Linked DNA regions of Homo sapiens. The protein of the gene in region 2 interacts with the protein of the main gene of each other region in a biochemical or structural test. Each region holds a gene or a part of one and is shown on either strand. Other genes may lie near its edges.

Region 1 (10,593 bases), on a different chromosome or scaffold from region 2:
AAGTACCTAGACATCTATAACTAACAACCACTTTTCTTACTATCATTGAAGTCAATAGAAACACAAAGGAATTTTTCAGACAAAGTATGGCAAACAACAATCTCTTGGGTGACAACACAACCCCAAAATCTGTTAACTTTGGAAAGGTGCGAGAGCATAGAACTCCAGTGCAAATGGTTACTTCCAGATAACGGCCACAGTTCTCTAAATGTAGTCTAAGAAATGTAGAAGGGGGAAACCATAAAGGCAACATACCTGAATCTTTCAAGACAACACACAAACTCTGCCATGTACACATTTGCCTTTTATATTGGGCAGTGAGGAAGGGGAGTTTTTTGTTTTGTTTTGTTTTGTTTTTAAAGAGGTAAACTACAAGAATAATATCCAGGCTACAGTCTAAAGGGTAAAATTTAAATGTTTCAGTGAGACAGTAGCATTATGGAAGGTCTAAGGAACAGGTACAGTAAGATGAGTCTAAATAACAGAGTGCCTTAAGTGCAGGTGAACTGCAAATACATAGGGACTGATGCCTTCCACTTCCTCTGCACCACTATGGAAGCTTCTGGTAAGCTACTCTAGACAGCTATGTGAAAAGAAACAAGAGCAGTACTAATAATGAAAGCCAAGTTACTTTTCAGGTACTAAAGGACCCTCTTGGACTCAGGGCAAAAATACCCCTCCAAATATTTGTCTACACACATACAAACGTACATACACATATATAGATACTGGCCCGGTGTCCAGGACATGCCTGCGAAGGAGGCTAAACCTATACTTTATTTCCTGCTACATAAGAATCCAAACTAAGATGGCAGTGTTTTCCCACTCCTGTGGGAGCCATGCAGTGAATCAGTAACTTTGTCAAACAGCATCAAATCCATTGAGTACAATGCCATTCTGAAGCTGATAGGCTTGTTCCACAGAATCTACAGAATAAGTTCATCAGCTAAAAGAGGAGATTTTGTTCAAACTGTGCTTTGTGGTTATATTGTTTCCTTAAAAAATGGTATTAACTGTTTCCTTCAAACTTATATGGCTCTTAATCTACTTCTATACACAGTGGACATAATGCCAGGGTTGTATACAGAAACGAAACCTTATGGTGTTTTCCCCTCAAATGTATGAACACGGACAATTTATAGATGCGTATATACAAGTGCTGGCTAGGGAGGCCTTCTCTCCAATTCAATGCTCTAATAGCAAACTCTATTTAAAAACCAGGTCGGTAGTATAAAAGCTCATGCAGTGGTCCACAGAAGAGCATCTTTTGTTCACACTTGGGGATCATTTTTTTCATGGCCTATGTCTCATTCCCAGCATGAAATACTAGATTTCTTAAGCCCAGGTGTTCATACTCTGTCCTTTGTTCTAATGATGTTCTGTTTTCCACATAAAGGACTTAGGTTTTCAGCTTCTAATCTTGTATCATCATACTACTATGGATGGTTCTGAAGGCCAACTGTGATTACTACCATTTATTCAGGTAAACTATCAACCATATTTTTGGGCAGAATTGGAGAAGCCTTGGAAAGGACTCTGGCCCCCAGTCCATACCTCCCTCTCTTTTTCCAAATCAGAATGTTTTCTGTTCATGGTAGAAGCTACGTTGCTATTGGGAATATATACAGTTGGAACCTTTGCAATAGGATGGTGGCTGATGACAAAAATCATCGGCCACTAAAGTGTGCTCAGAAAGACAGGATTGCAGTGGGGTGCCCACTATCCTGGAGTTGGATGCAAGTTGAAAGAAAAGAAAATAACCATCATGGAAGCCAAAAGAAGAGATCATTCCTGGAGGGGTGACCCAAACACTGATTCTGCTCAGACATCGTCGTGCACAAGCAGAGGCTGGGAGGAGGAAGCGGTGCTGCCGACAGAATTGATCCGCACAGAATGGTCTACCACGGGCTTCTGTCGGTTGGGGCTGCAGTTTGCTAAGTTGGAGTAAATCTGGAGAAAACAAGCCCATAGTCAATACAGCAGTCCCTACAACGAACATAGCAACAAAAGGCATACTTACAGTGTCAAGATCACAACTAACTGATGGAAACTCTTAAGAGAGAAGTGGTTTCCAAGAACTTTGTGGCCAAAACCCAAGTCATACTGACAAAACAAATATAAGCTTTGTTTTCCCCCTTCATTTTTCCAAGGAAATAACTTTATACAAGAAGTGGGGACAAAACATGCACAAGCTTAGCTCTTCTAAAAGGGCACACCAGGCACCAAGCACTATCTTACCTATTTAAAAGGCTTGTAAATCTCTCCAGCAACTACAACCCAATAACCAATGTAATTTGCTGGGAAACCCACGGCCCTTCCAGGGGTCTCTTGTCAAGAATCAAAGCAACTGGGTGGAAAATGCTGTTCAATTTGAAACATGTTTTGACACCCAGAAGAACAAGCTTTAACCCAAAAATTATCAGTGGTGTGCTATTAGGAAAGAAAAGATAGCTCCAAGCACACAGCCCAGGAAAGAAAGCAGCTTAAAAAAATCTGAGTCAAAGTATCACTAATTCTTGCTTAAAAAGAGAGGAAATAATGGATTTGAGTTTTCATTCCCCCACACTTCCCAAATCACTGGGAGGGATCTCCCAACTTCAAACAGCTCTTCATTCTATATGGCTTGTGGGCATGACAGCTATCTGCCATTTTCTGGCTATGCTTGTTTGATCAGAAGGCTTATTTCACTGCAGTAACAAGCTGTCTTTTCTATGCTTTTATTCTAGTTCACATCACCCCAACCCTCCAAAGGATGCATGGCCCTGACATGTGAGAGGGAGAAAATACTGACCCCGTGACCAGCATTTGAGATGAGGGAGGAAACATGGCAAATCCTTATGGAAACTTCTACTTCCAGTGAGTACAAAACTCTCCACCCTTCCCCCTCAATCTCACATCCTTCTTTGGCTCAGAACAGGAGGGCTGGGCAGAAAGAACTAGTTTCCATTGCTTTACTTCCCCTACCTGAAGCCCAATTTGCAACCTAAGATTAGGAGAGAAGGGGTTGGGAGGTTAGTCCTCACCCTGAAAGCCTGAGGAGGAGGACACACCTGGAACTGGGAGAAGGGGGATTCTATGCCTGGCCAGGGTATACTCACATGATTGGTGCTCTCTGAAATCTGCTTCTCAATTAGCTGAACAATTTGCTTGAATGTTGGTCTTTTTAGGGGATCTGCATCCCAGCAAGTCTTCATTATGTCATACCTGCAAGACAAGGGCCATTTACTATCCCTCCTCAATGCCCTCAGCTTGTTTTCAAATGTATGGGCATCCAGCAACTTCAGTAATAATTCCAGGGCTATGCAACTGGACATATGGACTGACATATAGATAACATAAAACACTGCATGTATGAAATATTACTGAAACTTTCTGTATTTTTGGTGACAAGAGATTATGAAAATAAACTACAGAAATGACATTTGACCAGTGTGTCATAAAGAATCCAAGTGACATTTCAAACTGTGTTATGAAAACCCTCAACATCTGGGTTTCTGTCTCTAAAAAGAAAAATAAAAGGGAAAACGTGACCTAAAGGAAAAATTTTTTGGCTCTTACATTTCAGCAGGTGCGTGTTCAGGGCTGAGCATCCGGAAGCCTTCCTTGATCATCTTGTAGAACTTAGAATCGACCGGCATTCCAGGATAGGGGCTGCTTCCTGAGACACAGTTTGCAAAGCAGTGTTAATCACAAGGAAGCAGGACACCAATGAAACTTCAAGAAGATGCTCTGAGTCTAATGAAGTTGTCTTTGGCAAGGATCATTTTACCTAAAGAGAACAGCTCCCAAAGAAAAATCCCATAGGACCAGACGTCACTTTCAAACGTGTATACACAGTTGAAAATGCTTTCAGGTGCCATCCACTTCACAGGTAGTCGAGCCTGTAATAGAAGCACAACAGAGTCAATAATGTTAATTCAGAAGCTCAACAAAATTGAACAGAAGATATTCTTATAGATGCTGCTGTTGCTGAAATGTGGAGTGATAACTTGAGTACCATCTCACAAAAACCTTTTACCTATATGAACTCAGATGATCCCAATCACCTCTGAAATACATGGCTCACAAGTGCATTATCCCCATTTTAAGATGTGAGCACTATGTCAGTACGGCATGGAGATTAAGAGCACAAACGTCAGAGACAGCCAGACATTTTAGCCCTGGCTCCACCATGGGCCTTAGGTAATGCAGAGATTTGTTAGTTTCCACTGAATATGTCCCTCTCCTTCCTTAAAAACAGAAACACGGCCTCTCACAATTAGGACTACATTTCCCAGCCTCCTTTGCAGCTAGCTAGCTGTAGTTAGGTGACTCGGTTTTGGCCACTAAGTTGTAAGTGCTGTATAGCAGCTTCAGGAAAACCTCCTTACAATATAGCTGGCACGTGCCCTCTGCCCTCTCTTCTCTAGTGCAAGGGCCCCCTGCCTTCTGGATATGATGGCTGGCTATCCACCTGGTGGTCATCTTGGACCATGGACATGGGGGTTACACTCAGGAATGGCTAAGCATGGAAAGGAAAGACTTGCCCGGGTACTCCATGGAACCTTTATACCAATCCTGGTATAAAGTCTACTCCTAGACTTCTTTTATTTTGGGTTTTCTGTCAAAACCCAAAACTTTCTCTAATACACTGGGAAAGTCACTAAAATATTTGTAATTAAGCCTCAGTATCTTCTTCTGTAAAACAAAATGAATACTTTTAATTTTATGAATTGTCTTGTGGGTTAAATAAGATAAAATGGGTAAAAATGCTTAGCACCGCCTGACTCAGTGCTATCTGAAAAATTGCCTAGAAGAAAGGCAAGTACTTGATAAACAGTAGTGGCTTGTGATCCTGACTCTTTGGAGAACTCTCTCCATTAAAGTTGAGCTAAACTTTCTGTAACTAGTCCTTTTAGATGCATTCTGGATTCCCAATCTTAATCTGCCATAAAAAGCTAAATCAATCCTTCTCTTAATCCATTTAGGATTGAAAACTGGGAAAGCTTTTTTTTTTTTTCTTTTTTTTTTTTGGTGTTAAAGTTATTTTAGTCAGCTTACAAAAACAAAACAAAAAACTTCCAATATCCCTTCCCTTCCTAGATGTTGTGCTAAAGTTCCTATAAGGGCTCCTAACCTGAGATCTATGGGTGTCAAATTCAGGGGCCTGTGAACTTGGAAAGGAAAAATGACATCCTTATTTTCGCTAATTTCTAGATGAAATTTAGCATTTCTTTAAATTACTAACAAAGGTGATAAAACGCAGTAGTATCAGCTGTACCTGTGACTTTGTCATGAACAGTAATCATAAATATCTTCATATCCTATTAAGTCTTTATAGGTATCTCAAAATCATATTTACATTAATCACCACTCTAAAATTACAGTGGTTTTTAGAAAAAATAGCAAAACCCACAATTACTTTTACACCAACCTAACAGAGCCTGTTACACTCTATAGTAAACACATGTACTGACATATCACAAATTTACTTAGTATCTTCATAGCTATTTCGATTTAACTGTTTTCCTTGGTATTCCTATGTATTTCATCATAGGCGTTGAAAACAGTGTTCTGATAAGGGTCCCATAGGCTTTACCAGGCTCTAAAAGGGGCCATGACATGAAAAACAATGAAGAACTCATGTGAAAGGAAAGAACTTCAGAGAACCTGACACAACAAGGAGATCTCAAATGATGATGACAAAAATGTGGGGCGGTAACATATATGAGTTTCCTTCTTCTTATCTTGTTCCAGAAATTCTCCTTACCCACTAGCCTGGTGAAAGCGAGATCTGTGATTGGTTAGTTCAACTGACTTGAACTGGAGTCTACAATCTGGAAGCCTGATAGAGCCAACCCCTCTTTGTCATTTCAAACTAAGGTCACTAACCAATAACAAGACAGTATGTAACCACCGTCACGATTATTTAGATCGTAAATAAGACATCTATAAAGAATAGTAACAATATGTCTGGCACTGTCATAAGCACTTTACATATATTAACTCATAACTTTCTGAGTCAGGAATCACTATTATTCCCAAGGGGAGAAAAACAAAGATTCAGAGGTATTGGACAACTCTTGACAAAATTACACAGGCATGAAATAATGGAGACAGATTGCAGAATTCATCAAGACTGGGCCTGGAGGCGGCCACCTTCTTCCTCCTCCCTTTGGTCAATATTCAGAGGACTGGATAATTAACGACTTATCATTCTTCCTTCCAAAATTGCACCAGGATGAAGAGAAGTTGTTTTTATTATCACTCCTGATGATAATATCTAGCTTCAGGGCAGCCTTTTCAGAAATTCATGCTTTGGCCAGGAGATAAACACAGAAACACTCTTACAAAACCAAATCGAGTACAGGCTACCAATAGAGACGCCACAGTGATGGGGGGAAAACATTACATTATCATAAGGGGCACAAAAATCCACCTCCAGGAATAAATCTGGACTGCAGAAATGGGCCCAGGAAGACAGGCAGAGAATATTATAAAGGGCAATATGGTTTTCCATGGCGATGGGATGCCACTCTGGAAATCACAGGCTCTAGTTTCAGCCTCTATTGTCCTGTGTCACCTCAGATAAAAAGCACTAAAATATGCCATGCCTTAGTTTCTCCAACTTTTAAAATAGGAAGGTGCTGCAATTATAGGACAAGGGTTTGTTCTGAGGATTCAATAAAAATTGGCAAGGAAATACAGCACTTTGAAAAACATTTGCTATGTTCTACAAACCCATTATTACTTATGAACCTATTTAATAGCTCTCCGTGTATTCTAGGATCCAACATTCTATATGGCTAACTCTGAATATGATCTTAGATTTTAATATTTTTCACACGGCATGCCAATCCCCCCAAAATTTCTCCTGCTGTGACCTTCAATGACCTACATTTGTTACACTTGAGCAAAATCAAGTTCATTGCTATTCTCAGGCTATAATGAAAATTAAGGCTATTTCTGTTTCCTTCACATGCCCCAAAATTACACAATTAGAATTAGGACTTCTATTATTGAATGTTAGTTGTAGTAATGTTCAGCATACCATGCAAATTTTGCTGAAGTATACTTAATTTGACTGCTAAAATGTGTGATATCCCTAGACAGGATTTACATTATGAAAATCACAGGAAACAATTTTTATCGAAAGTTGAAACTAAAAATCCTTTGCAGGACTGTCAAGCAGAGAATGGGTACTCACGTTTCCTTTAACCACATAATTAGAATCATTCTTGATGTCTCTGGCTAGACCAAAATCACAAATCTTTGTGATCCGACCATGAGTAAGGAGGATATTTCTGGCTGCCAAGTCTCTGTGAATACACTATTAGGTTGGAGGAGAAAAGAAAACCATTTAAATTCATTTTAACTTGTAAAGAGTGAAAACTAACTTTTTAATACTATAGTGTTGCTTATATTATAAAAAATCCAATACTTTTGTTTTAAAGTATTCAGTACACCAAAAATAAAAATCAAAAGTACGCCTTGAATGATGTTCACATAATCAAGAGTCTAATTATTATAATCTCTTTTAAAAGCAATTCTAATAAATGCTGTTTTCTTCTCAGGACTGCTTTCATTCATAGGGAAATACATAAGAAATAGTCATATCATATTGTTTAAACTGAAAATTCATTTTGCATGCATCTCTTTGAATGTCCTTTCACAGAGTTCCTAATATGCCTTTGCAAATTCAATCTGACATCTCCCAAGGACACACGGAAGAAGGTCTTTATTTCAGCCATCTTATATCCTTTCTTAGTTTGGTAATTGTTGGGAAATGTCACCCATGACATTTAAGGGTAGGACTGGTAACTCATTCTGTTCGGTTAATCTTACTTCCTAAGGAACTCCTTTCACCCTTCCACAGACCATGCTCCTTGTTTTGGTTCCATCATTCTTTCCATTCCTAACCTTCTCCCAAGTGTTTATTACTCCCTCTGACCCCTTATTTCCTGACACTTCATAAGCCACACATATAATATTTGGATCTAACTTCAATAAAACTCAAGTCTATGCTTCACCCCAAGCCTTGTAACTATGAGGTGCCCTCTGCTTTTACTGATAAAATGATTCTGTTCTCTAGGAACATATCCTATATCCTAAAAGCCAAAAGTTTTAAAAGAATTTCACTGCATATAAAAGAATATTCATAGAAAAACTCATTTAGACAGGCTTGTACTTTACAGCTTATAAATTAGAACAGGAATTCCAAAGAGACAGCAGTTGGAACATGAAGAAACTAAATTTCCTCTGCTTTTGGTTACCACACTTCAAAATGACATTCTGCATTTTAACTATGGCTCTAAAATGCTCTGTTCTCAAAAAAAAAAAAAAAAAAAAAAAAATCAAAAAAACAAAACACAAAACTCTTTAGAGAATCACTCCCACTTACATTCTTGGAGGCGAGGAAAGCCATGCCCTTTGCCACCTGGTAAGAAAAGCTCAGCAAGTCTTCTAAGTCTAGGGCCAACTCGTCATCCTCCATGATGGCGGGAGTCACATCTCTTTCTATGTATGAGCCTGTGAGGAAGAGAGGATTTTTCTTAGCAATTACAACCATAAAGGTCAGGAAAGGAAAAGACAGTGGCAATGACATACCAAAGGCTGGTAATGAATGAACTAATGTGAACTTGCAGGCAGATCACTTCCCTGGTGTCCAGGAAAGGTAGATGCTGAATCACAAAGTTAATATTTAACAATCCTAGGCTGGGTTACAAAATCCATAGAGGAGAGGGATGGCGAATTAAAGCAAAGATCCCATATCTATAGAAAGATACTCAGGCACAAAAACATATGCTCTGACCCCAAACACCCACTTGCAACCCTAACTGCCATTGACCATTGGCACTGCTACCATAAAGCAGAACTGGTCTGCATCATTGCTACTGGGAATGATGTTATATTCCACATTAGCATGATATACATACTCTCTGTAAAGTTACTCTTGGTTGCTTGATAGGTAGGTACTCACCTATTCTCACAGATCTCCTTTTGTCGGCCTTGGTTGGGACAACATAAGAAACTCCAGGTTTCATGTCCATGTACTCATTAGTACTATCGCTGCTGGGAGAGATGAAACAAGTCATGACTGAATCAAGTGGGACATGTAGAAGGGCACTCATGGGTCATGCTCTACCTCCTCATCCCCTTTGCTACATAATAGACTGGACCAATTTGAGGAAAGTCATGTAAAGTTTGAATAAAGAGTTTGAAAATCCTGTTCTGTAAGAAATGAGTTTTTAATAATCGATATTGGGGTCCATGCCCAGAAACTAGGTGTCCTTTTTGTGTATAATCATATAGAGGACTCAGGTTAGAAATTTCCCGTCTCTTGACACAATGAATTTAATGGGAGACAGAGAGCCAAATATGGTATCCCGTATTACCTCAAACTCTCTAAATGAGCCCCAGGAGACAAGATGAAAGAAAGACAAAGAAGAGCTTCCAAGACGTGTTATGCAGGAGGCAGAGATCGTTAACATATAGTGACTGATGGAGGAAGGTTTAAAAAAAAATCAAGTTGGTTCAGATAAACACCAATAATTTGGATGATTTTCTGAACCATCTGGACCTCTTCAATCTGCAACATTTGGCTGGAGACTCTTCAAGATTTCTAGTACTTCCTGCTTCTGATTAGCATAGAAACACCATGACAACAATCTCCTTCAGAGTGTGCTGGTGGTTCCAATCCCATATGGGATCCCAAAGCACAAAGAACATCACACAGGATTGAACAATTTAGGCCATTATATCAGAAAGTTAAAGGATATATATAGGGCCAAGGTTTCGGAAAGAAGCAAAATGGCTCATTTCTTCATATAATGAGCACATGCCCAGGAGAAACTAACAAAAAGTGGTTTTGTACAGTTTCTACTACCACTTTAAACTACTCAAGTTTATAGGATTAAAAAAAAATAAAAAGTTTCACCTGGGGTTTTAAACTTTAGCCAGAGGTACAGAAAATGGCTTTAAGGGGTAATTGCCCATCAATAATATTTACTGAGGTCTCCTTGAGGACCTGGTGTTAAGAGTTCAGGAGGCAATGTCTTGCCATTGCAAGATGCAGTGGATATAAAGTGCATGAAAAGGATAGGAGAAATCTACCACACAACTGCAGCAATATACAGTATAGGGGACTGGGCAAAATAACCATGACTTCTGTTGGACTGGGTACATCTAGGAAGTCTTCTCAAATGGTGGCCCTTAAGAGCATTTCCAAAGAAAGAATAGGCAAGATATGAGAAGAATTCTTTTCTGGTTGTAAGTCAAACTCAAAGCTCTTTATACATGATTCAAATTCAGAATGGCATCAATGATGAAAGAGATGAGAATAATGTCCAGAATTTTTAAAAAATGTGCTGGAGTAGTTATGTCTTTTAATAGCATGATGAAATAAAAAGGGCAAGAGGCAAGGTATACAGGAATAATCCAGAGGTCGATGGCAAGAAGCCTACATGTGGAGATATGTTCAGAGCTCTTTGTCATTCTGCTAAAGGTTTTAAAGGGACTTTACTGTGGCAACTTGAGAGGCTTTAGCATTTTCCCTATAAACAGTATCTCACTGGAAACATGCATGTAGTACCAAGCTCAATAGTATAAATGGAA
Region 2 (10,906 bases):
GCCTGCAGTTACTCTGGGATGACAGTGGTTTTGGAAGGCTCTCTTCCTCTTTCCCTGACCATATCCAGCTGTTAAGCTATGCAAATTTTCTTTTCTTTTTTCTTTCTTTCTTTCTTCTCTTTTTTTTTTTTTTTTTGAGATGGAGTCTCGCTCTGTCGCCCAGGCTGGAGTGCAGTGGCACAATCTCGGCTCACTGCAACCTCCGCCTCCCGGGTTCAAGCAATCCTCTGACTCAGCCTCCCAAGTAGTTGGGATTACAGGCACCTGCCACCACGCCCGGCTAATTATTGTATTTTTTGTTTTTTAGTAGAGACGGGGTTTGACCGTCTTGGCCAGGCTGGTCTTGAACTCCTGACCTAGTGATCCACCCACCTCAGCCTCCCAAAGTGTTGGGATTTTAGGCATGAGCCACTGCACCCAGCCCTTCTTTTTCTAATCCTTGCTTGGTTGAAATAAGCTCTGCAAGTTGCCAATGGATTGCTTTATAATTTCCTATAATGCCCTGCACTACACACTGATCCTATCAAGTTTGGCTCCTTGGAAGAAATAGTGTGTGAGGTCAATGTCTGCTATTTGTTCTGACCTCAGGAGGGCTCCCTCTACTGGTGCTATTCCCTGTTCTCTCCTGTAAACGAGCAGCCTAGAGTTCAGCTTGTGTCTTGAATCTTCTCCTAATTATCTCTCACCATAATCTCTACTATTCTCAAAAGCACCTTTTGGGCCGGGTGCGGTGGCTCACGCCTGTAATCCCAGCACTTTGGGAGGCTGAGGTGGGCGGATCACCTGAGGTCGGGAGTTCGAGACCAGCCTGGTCAACATGGTGCAAACCCCGTCTCTACTTAAAAAAAAAAAATTAGCTGGGTGTGGTGGTAGGCACCTGTAATCCCAGCTACTCGGGAGGCCGAGGCAGGAGAATCGCTTGAACCCAGGAGGCGGAGGTTGCAGTGAGCGGAGATCGCATCACTGCACTCTCAAACAAACCTAACCAAAATCAAAACAAAAGCAACTTTTGCCTTGAATTCCTTCGTTCTCTGTAGCAAATGAGGTCAGTTGCTTTGGGAAGAGATTAGGAAGTCTCTTTTTTATGGCCTGTTTCTTCATTAGACAAAAATCTCTCTGAGCCAGGGCCCTGGAGCTGGGGGTGGAGACTTTGGAAAGCTTCTCTCTGAGTGACACCCTGCGCTAGGGGCTGAGGACTTGGTGGGAGTGGGGACAATGGCCGAGGTCCTCAAAGTTTGCCTCTCCTGTTGTCGAGCTACTTCCACATGAGCCAGGGCCGGAGTGATCAGGACCCCAGCACTCGCAGCACACTGCACCCAAGGCAGAGCCTCTGTTCCTTGAGTGGGGCTGGGTGCAAGAAGGGGGCCCCCAACTCTTGGCTACACTCATCCAGGACTTAGTCTCAGCAACAGGTGGCTGGGGGTAGAATAGGAAATGGATGTCCTGTTCTTCGTGGGAGGCAAGCCCTCCCACTGGGAGCTGGGGGCAGAGGGAGCCCTGTTTCCCTGGTCTGGAGGCAGCAGGGGACCCCATGTTCTTGGCTGCAGCTGTCCAGAGTGGAGTCTCAGCCTCACTGAGCTGAGAGGAAGGGCAAGAGGGGCCATGATCTCAGTGCAAACACCATGGCCTCACCTTTTTAAACCAAATATTCATAGATGTTCATGAATCCATGTTTCTTCATTTGCATTTTCTTTTTTTTTTTCCAGACAAAGTCTCGCTCTGTCCTCAGAGGCAGGAGTACAATGGTGTGATCATAGCTCACTATCACCTTGAAATCCAGGACCGAAACGATCCTCCCACCTCAGCCTCCTGAGTAGCTGGGATTACAGGTGAGAGCCACCATGCCTGGCCTATTTTTGTTGTTGTTTATTTTTGTAGAGATGGGTTCTCACTATGTTGTCCAGGCTGGTCTTGAACTCCTGGGTTCAAGCATTCCTCCTGCTCCAGCTTCCCAAAGTGCTGGGATTACAGGTGTGAGCCACCATGCCTGGCCTGTTTCTTCATTTTCTTTTCTTTCTTTCTTTCTTTTTTTTTTTTTTTTCTGAGACAGAGTCTCCCTCTGTCACCCAGGCTGGAGTGCAGTGGCACGATCTCTGCTCACTGCAATCTCCACCTCCCAGGTTCAAGTGATTCTATTTCCAAGTAGCTGGGACTACAGGCGTGCGCCACCATGCCTGGCCAATTTTTGTATTTCAAGTAGACACAGGGAGGCGGAGGTTGCAGTGAGCTGAGATCATGCCACTGCACTCTAGTTCAGGCAACAAAAGCAAAACTCTGTCTCAAAAAAATTTTTTTTCAGGGAGTTCTCTCAGGTGTTTCAGCCAATCTCTGATGATAAAAAGTTCCCCAATCAGCCTGTTTGGAGTGTTCCAGGGTCCAGTAGTCTAGCCCAGTCTACTAATTACAGAACTCAAACTGCATTGAAATTGCAGTTTCCATCCAATCTCACGACCCTTAACATAATCGCACCGGCAAAGTCCCTCTTGTCATATAAGGGAACGTTCCAAGTTCTTGAGATCAGGACCTGGATGTCTTCGGGGCTGTTACTCAGCTGATCACAGGGGGTTAGGGTTTCAGCACTGAGACAGTGGCTGGGTCTGCCCTGGCCTGGTGTGGCCTGTGGCCAGTGATGAGTTTTCCTCCTGTGAGCAGCTTTTGAGGGACCTCCATAAACCAAAACCAAAATCCTAAGCCCCTTAACCATCCAAATGGACTCCTTCTCTCGGCAAGGGCATTCCAAAGTTAACCTGAAAATGAGTTCAGGATATGATGGGAAGGGGGAGCTGGACATGCCTTGTTATAACCTCCTCGCTTTTGGAATTACTGTTAGAACGGACTCTTTCAGTCTGATAAGAAACATTTACACTATATTCTCTCTGAAGCCAGCTACCTGGAGGCTTCATCTGCATAATAAAACCTTGGTTTCCAAAACTCCTTATTTTGTTGTTTTTTTGTTTTTTTTTTTTTTTGAGATAGGGTTTCTCTTTTGTTGCCCAGGCTGGAGTATAATGGGGTGATCTCGGCTCACTGCAACCTCCGCCTCCTGGGTTCAAGCAATTCTCCTGCCTCAGCTTCCCAAGTAGCTGGGATTACAGGCGTGCGCCACCACTCCCGGCTAATTTTGTATATACATTTTTTGAGATGGAGTTTCACTCTTGTCGCCCAGGCTGGAGTGCAGTGGCATGATCTTGGCTCACTGCAACTTCCGTCTCCTGGGTTCAAGTGATTCTCCTGCCTCAGCCTCCCAAATAGCTGGGATTATAGGCACTCGCCACCACGCCTAGCTAATTTTTTATTTTTAGTAGAGACGGGGTTTCACTATGTTGGCCAGGCTGGTCTCAAACTCCTAACCTCAGGTGATCCACCTGCCTCGGCCTCCCAAAGTGCTGGGATTGCAGATGTGAGCCACCGTGCCCAGCCTAATTTTGTATTTTTGGTAGAGACAGGGTTTCACCATGTTGGTCAGGCTGGTCTCGAACTCCTGGCCTCAAGTGATCTGCCTGCCTTGACCTCCCAAAGTGCTGGGATTACAGGCATGAGCCACCGCGCCTGGCCCAAGCCTCCAGTTTCCGATGGCCCCTCGTTCCAGGCCCCAGCGTCTGCCTCATTTGGGGTGCTGCATTCTTCAAGGGTCCTCTCAGTCAAGTCCCATTTGTGGGGTCCTCTCTGGTCTCCCGGAATCAGGGCAGATTTACCCTCCAACAAAGCTTTGCTGCTTACCTCACTGCACTCCTTGAGCTCACTGTACAGTAGGCAGCCCAGGCTCCCAGCTCTGGCCCGAGCCACCTTGGGCAGGAATCCTTCGGGTTGAGGCCATGCGGCGAAGGAGTTGTAGGCATGGTTTGGCCCTCAGGCCTGCCTGGGTTTGAACCCCAGCCCTGCCACCTACCAACTATTGGTCACTTACCTCTTTGTAAAGGACTTGGCAGAGAATAAATACTTCTAAAACACATAAAAATAAACCCGGCATCTGTCCCACCGCCCCAGGGGACACCCATTCAGCTTCATAAGGGGAAGTCCTCCTCCCCTCATATGGCTAGAAGCACCTCAGAACTGAGGCGGGGGCCGATCCCAACCCCTCCATTGCATCATTCTGAGGCTTTGAAACCTCAGCTGCAACAGAGCCGGAAAGAGGGGCCTTATAACATCCTGTCACCCTTGGGGTCGGGGGCAGCCAGAAGGCAGGGGTCTTTGAGTAGAGGGCAGCGTGGAGAAGCCCTGGAATGGAGCTGGGTGAGGCCAGGGCCAGCTCCATCCTGCCTGGTTGGCTCAGGGACTCCAGAGTGGGCGGCGGGCAGCTGTCATCTTCTCTTCTTCCCTCTCAACTATTTTTTTTTTTTTTTTTGAGATGGAGTCTTGATGTGTCACCCAGGCTAGAGTGCAATGGTGCGATCTCGGCTCACTGCAACTTCCATCTCCCAGGTTCAAGCGATTCTTCTATTATTGGCCAGAAGGTCAGGGTGTGTTCATAGAATGATGGGTCCATGTCAAAAGGATAAGGAGACAGCTTGAAGGAGACCCCACTGGCCTAATCAGGGGCATTTTAAGCATCAAAATAAATGTAATAGTAATGGATTATAATCCACTGGCTAAAATATGAAACCATGAGCCTATATTAATATAAATGAAGGAAGAAAAACTTCTTTACAGAAAAAAAACAATGTGACTTCACACTGATTCATCCAGTGTCCATGCAACACCACAGGGCTCTGCCTGGTTTTCCTTCCACGTCTGTGTCTCCCTTCTTTCCCAGGGAGAACCCTGGTTCCAAACAATACAGCTGTGCTTGTCCATTTGTGCGCTATCCTGCAACACTTGCAAAACAGTTTCAGAATTGCTACACCGATAACACTGCTCATAACAAACCCACTAAGGAAAGGTAGAGATTTATTTACAATTCTCTTTTTTTTTTTTTTTTTTTTGAGAAGGAGACTCGCTCTGTCACCCAGGCTGGAGTGCAATGGCGCAATCTCAGGCAGGAGGATCGCTTGAGTCCAGGAATTCAAGACCAGCCTTGGTAACATGGTGAAAACCCATCTCTACTAAAAATACAAATAATTAGCCAGACATGGTGGTGGGCACCTGTAGTCCGAGCTACTCTGGAGGCTGAGGTGGGAGGATTGCTTGGAGCCTGGATGGATCCTTGGCTCACTGCAGCCTCTGCCTCCCGGGTTCAAGCGATTCTTGTGCCTCAGCCTTCCCAGTAGCTGGGATTACAGGCACATGCCACCATGCCAGGCTAATTTTTTGTATTTTTATTAGAGATGAGGCTTCACCATGTTGGCCAGGCTGATCTCGAACTCCTGACCTCCAGTGATCCGCCCATCTTGGCCTCTCAAAGTGCTGGGATTATAGGCATGAGCCATCGCGCCCGACCTACAAGTCTTGTTGACCTTAGGATTTAAGTCCCACCTAAGGTGCCCAGTGTCTAAACCAGAAGAGGTACCTTCTGAGCTGGTCTTTGATGGATGAATAGGAGTCTCCTGGGAGCAGAAAGAGGAGAACACCAGGCAGAGGAACCACGTGTGCAAAAGTCTGGGGTTGAAATGAGAGTTTGGTGTGGCCCCTTGCTGTGGCTGAAGCCCTGGGTTTGTTTAGAGTGAAGGGGATGACAAAGGATGAGAATGGGGGCTGTTTGTAGGGGCAGGTGGAGGTGGTGGATTGCAAGGGCCTTGAATGCCAGGTGAGGAGCTTGGGATTGAAGGAGCAGGAGGCAGGGCATCACAAGAGGCATCAGGGTTTAGGAAAAGATGGAGAGTCATTGGCAGATTGGTGAAGGGAGGCCAGCATCTGGTGCCATGAGACTCAGTGCCTGAGCCAGCAGGACAGCTTTGGCACTTCTCCTCCAGGCACCTCACTTTTACGGATGATAAAACATGGGCACAAGGGGGCCCCACTCCCAGAGCTTCAGGGAGACTCCCCAAGGGCCATTCCTGGCACCTGGGGTCTGAGGTAGGGACAGAGCTGGCTCACAAGCCCTCCCTGCTCTGTGACATGTCTGTTTCCTGTTTCTCCCCCATCAGGAGCAGTTTCAGTCTCAACTTCAAAAGAACAAACGCGCACTCAAAACAAAGGAAGACCGTCCTCGACTGCAGAGGAAGCAGGAAGCTGTCGGCCCAGCTCTGAGCCCAGCTGCTGGAGCCCCGAGCAGCGGCATGGAGTCCGTGGCCCTGTACAGCTTTCAGGCTACAGAGAGCGACGAGCTGGCCTTCAACAAGGGAGACACACTCAAGGTAGGGGGGCTGGAGCCTGCTGAGTTGGCCCCACACGGGGTGGGGGTGGATTTAGGAACCAGGGACCTGGGACTGTCCCAAGCAGACTGTGGCCCCTGGAAGACAGGCCCAGCCTCTCCAGTTATTGGCTGTGTGACTCTGGACAAGCCACCTTTTCCCTCGGAGCCTCAGATTCTCCATCTAGGAAATGGGGAGATAACTAATGACCCTCCTTTGGGGCTGTTGTGAGGATTCGATGAGATATTACCACAGTGTCTGGCAGGAGTTAGTTCAACCCCCAGTTTTCCAGGAAAAAGTTTGAAAAGAAAATTGTTGAGAGAGGGAGAGAATGAGAGCTAGAGAGAGAGACAGAGTATGGGAATGGAGAACAGAGCGAGAAAGAGGGAGAGAGAGAAGGTCTTAGGAAAGAAATAAGTACACATGCTAACCTAGTAGGGCTAAAATAGCTAAGATGAAAGTGTCAAGGATGAGCTTCCCAGTAGTGTGGAGAAAAGGGAAAATAGAGTCATACCACCGTTCATTTCTCCTTGTCTGGGCCGCTTTTGACAGATGTTGCAGCCTTCCAAGACGGTCTAGACAGTTGGGCCTGTGGAATGTGTCTCTGGAAATGTCCTTGCTTAAAAGTTTGCATATGAAAGCCATGCCCAGGATTCTGGGAGTGGCCATGCCAAGACGTGTGCACTGGAACTGCCAGTAAACCACACTAGGGAAGTGACTGCCCTTCCCTGGGCCTCAGTTTCCCCACTGGAGCAATGGGTGTTAGACTGGATGCTCCTCTGCGCTGAGCCCTGGGCGCTGCCCTTGGCCACAAGCTTCAAGCACAAGACGGGAGAGCTCCCTGTGCCATCACCCTGCTATAGCCAGGCCCCGAACTCAGCAGCACACCTCATGTACCATTTAAGCAATGGGGACTGGCACCCCCATTTCACAGGTGACTAAACTGAGGCACAGGGAGGCAACATGACCTGCTCGGTATGGAGTCAGTTTTGAACCCGTGTCCCTTTGGCTGTGGAACTTGCGCTTGGTCTGAACAGGCTGGGCTGGGGGTTGGGGTCCAGAGGAGGAGGAGCAATTCCTTCTTCTCTATGCTGGGGTGCTGGTGCTGGCACCTGGGGTCACTGCAGTGCTGGCTGTCGGCCTCGTGGACATGTGGCCAGATGGGGACAGGGCCAGGCTGAGCACTGGGGCTGTGAGCCCAAGGCATGACCCTCTGCGGGGATCCAAGTCTTGGTTTCTCATCTGAGAGCACTTCGAGGTCTCTAGACCCAAGTGTGGTGTTGGGAGGGAGTGGGGCAGTGATGAAATAGGAATGGGGTGCGCGGGAGGCGTTGAGCCAGGCTTGGAGGGATCAAGTGGCTGGGGTGGAAGCTGAGCTCCGCGACCATCCTGTCCTCTCGTCTAGCAAGTATTTTCCAGTGCTCCCTGTGGGCCAGCCCCTGCCATGGCACTGCCTGCCTACAGATTGAGTCCAGCCTGGGAGAGTGGGCGATGAAGCCCGTTCTTGAAATCTGAACTTTGGTCTTGGATGAAAACTCTGGCTCATGGACTCACCCTGGACAAATGGCCCCAAACATCACCTCCCTGGGACAAAGCCTCCCTCCCTGATAGGCCAGGCGTTTCTGGGTGCACGCACCCCCATGCTGTTGCCAGCTGGAGGGGCATGTGGTTAGTGGCTTCACTCCCATCTCTGCACGAGCAGCCTGGATGATGAGACCCAGACTCAGGAAGCCCATGTCACCTTGACATCTCCATGGGAAAGGGCGACGGTCCAGACCCAACACAGCCAGCCCTGGGCTCCCTGAACCTACTTTCTGCTGCCTGTCATTGTCTTGTCGGCAACTCTGGCAAAACCTACCCGAAGCCCCTCCTCCAGCCCAGGCCTCCATTGTCACTTACCTGGGCTTGCGTGGTGGCTCCCAAGGCCTCCCCGCAACAATCCCTGCTCCCCAGCCCAGTCTCCATGCAGTGGCCATGACTCAGAGCCTGGTCCTCCCCCGTACATCTTATGACATCTGCTCCTCCCTCCCTCAGCTCCAGACACCCTGGCCTCCTTTCTGTTTCAGGGACAGAGCTTGGCCCCACCTCAGAGCCTTGGCACTGGCTGTTCCGTCCGTCTTGGACACTGTTCCCCACATTTTCTTACCGCTGGTTCCTTCTTGTAATTCGGGTCTCAGCTTCCATGTCACTTCTTCAGAGAGGCCTTTCTGGACCACCCCACCTGTCCCGTGTTGACAATCTCCCTGCTCCCACCCAACCAGACATTCTCCATCTGTCACCTGATGTCCATTTTTCACAGCGCTTACTGCTCCATTAAACTACCTTGCTTATTTGTTTCTTCCCTTGTTTATGGTCTGTCTCTGCCTACTAGAATGTGAGCTTCTTGTTCCCTGCTCTGTCGTGGGGTGCCTGGCACACAGTAGGTGCTCAGTAAACAACTATCAAGCAGCAACTGCATCGGGCTGGGATGGTAAAGTGGGGCGGCAGCCTGGGTGGAGGGCACCATGTGGGCAAAGGCTCAGGGGCAGGCCAAGTTCTGCCTCTCACCTTGAGCAGTGATACTCCTCCAGGGAGGAGTTGGCCTCTCTCCCTTGTGAGAATTCCCGGGTCTCAGAGGGTCTGGGGCTTTCAAACAATGTTCACAGTAAGAAATCAGTTAACGTGAGGTCAAGAGATCGAGACCAGCCTGGCCAACATGGTGAAACCCCATCTCTACTAAAAATACAAAAATTTAGCTGGGCGTGGTGGCACACACCTGTAGTCCCAGCTACTCGGGAGGCTGAGGCAGGAGAATCGCTTGAACCCAGGAGGCAGAGGTTGCAGTGAGCTGAGATTGCGCCACTGCACTCCAGCCTGGTGACAGAGTGAGACTCCATCTCAAAAAGAAAAAAAAAAAGAAAAAAGAAAAAGAAATTAGCTAATGTAACCAATGGGACATTCCTGAGTCCTCTGAGTGCAGATGACAAGGAGACAAAACGAAGCAGGGACTGCATGAGACGTATTCCACCCAGTGTCCGCACTGCTGCATGCAGGGCAGGCCATAAATGCACCCATTGGACAGACGAGGGAGGACACTGAGGCCAAGGCCACAGAGAGAGTCAGAAGCAGACAGAATGTTCTGGAGCCCCAGGCTTCAGGGCATCCTCCTGGAATCCATGGCTGTGGTATGTGGCCTACAGGCCCTCATTTTCTCCTTAGGTTGGGGGAGTTGTTTTGTTTTTTTGAGACGGAGTCTCACTCTGTTGCCCAGGCTGGAGTGCAATGGCGCGATCTCGGCTCACTGCAGCCTCCAGCTCCCGGGTTCAAGTGATTCTCCTGCCTCAGCCTCCTGAGAAAGTTGGGGATTATGAGAGTGTGCCACCATACTTGGCTAATTTTTTTGTATTTTTAGTAGAGACGGGGTTTCGCCATGTTGGCCAGGCTAGTCTTGAACTCCTGACCTCAGGTGGTCCACCCTCTTCAGCCTCCCAAAGTGCTGGGATTACAGGCGTGAACCACTGCGCCCGGCCTGTTTTGTTTTGTGTTGAGCGAAAGTTTTCCTGAGTCAGCCACCTGCTTCCGTTCACCCCTGGGTCTGCTGACCTGGCCCAGGCTGCAGGGGCAGGAAGGAAGAGGCTCAGCCAGCCTGGCCTGGTGGACAAAGCGGGGGTGGAGATGGGGGTGCAGAGGCCACCTGTGAGGGTGGGGCCTCAGGCCTGGGCCCTAGGAGGCCAATCCCAGCTACTCTTGGCAAAATATCACTGCTGGAGTTGATGCCCCTGTATTGGCCCGCCCTGGGCCTTTGGTACCCCGTGCCCAATTTTTTCTCTCAAGTACCCCTGAAGGATTGAGCTGACATTGGAACCTGCTCCAGGACTGACAGGAGAGATGTCCCCTCACAGGAGAGATGTCCCCTCAAGCTGGAGTCCAGTGACAAAGAGGACTGGAGGCAAAAATTGGTGGGCCAGGACCCCCTTGACCAGTGAGCCAAAAACTCCAGGCCTCAGAGTCCTGACTGACCAAACAGGCTCTGCCTCTCCCCTGCTGCGTGGCCTTGGCCAAGTCACTTCCCCTGTGGGCCTCAGTTTTGTTATTTGTAAAATAGCATTTGGTGATGTTGACCTTGGGGGCTATATGAGAATCAGGGGGACAGACGGAAGGCGTGCCCAGGGAATGGAGGCAGGACCCCCGGCCTCATGCTGTGCCCCTCCCAGGCCCGGCCCCGCCCCCCGCCTTGGTCGCTTGGTTGCTCCCCCTCAGGGACTCCCACCCCGGCTCTGGCTATTTCAGTTCCTCCGGGCCCACCTGTGGTGTGATGGGGGCCTCACAGGCTCGGAAGAGGAGCCCGTGTGACCGAGCAGGCCATGCCAGGGCTGAGAACCAGTCTGTCTCAGACCAAAGGCCCCCTTATCTGCTCCCCAGAGCCTGACGTCCCCCCACTGAATTGTCACCCCTGAGCTGTCTAAATGCGAGGGACCCTAGGTGACCACTGGTGGCTGTGCTCAGGCCGGGTCCCCCGACCTTCACCCCAAGGCTCAGTGCGTGGCATGTAAGTGCTGTGGGCCCCCCAAACTCGGGGGCACAACCCAGGAAGGAACTCAGGTCCCCAGTTCTGCTCCTGCAAACCCCATGGTCCGCAGGGCTCCTGGTGTCGGAGCCTGAGAATCCAGCTCCAGCCACCCCAAGCCTCCTACGAG

The links.
Region 1: the proteins of GRAP (region 2) and KIT form a complex in vitro, tested with the Homo sapiens proteins (one study listed by BioGRID).

Annotation. Positions count from the first base shown.
Region 1 is NC_000004.12:54,729,786-54,740,378, reverse strand, and holds part of KIT (mast/stem cell growth factor receptor Kit isoform 1 precursor), read right to left. Parts: intron 9,052-10,593; coding exon 8,960-9,051; intron 8,509-8,959; coding exon 8,381-8,508; intron 7,310-8,380; coding exon 7,187-7,309; intron 3,882-7,186; coding exon 3,770-3,881; intron 3,659-3,769; coding exon 3,559-3,658; intron 3,205-3,558; coding exon 3,099-3,204; intron 1,951-3,098; coding exon 1,822-1,950; 3' UTR 1-1,821. UniProt on the Homo sapiens protein: Tyrosine-protein kinase that acts as a cell-surface receptor for the cytokine KITLG/SCF and plays an essential role in the regulation of cell survival and proliferation, hematopoiesis, stem cell maintenance, gametogenesis, mast cell development, migration and function, and in melanogenesis.
Region 2 is NC_000017.11:19,042,176-19,053,081, reverse strand, and holds the start of GRAP (GRB2-related adapter protein), read left to right. Parts: upstream 1-6,124; 5' UTR 6,125-6,155; coding exon 6,156-6,233; intron 6,234-10,906. UniProt on the Homo sapiens protein: Couples signals from receptor and cytoplasmic tyrosine kinases to the Ras signaling pathway. Plays a role in the inner ear and in hearing.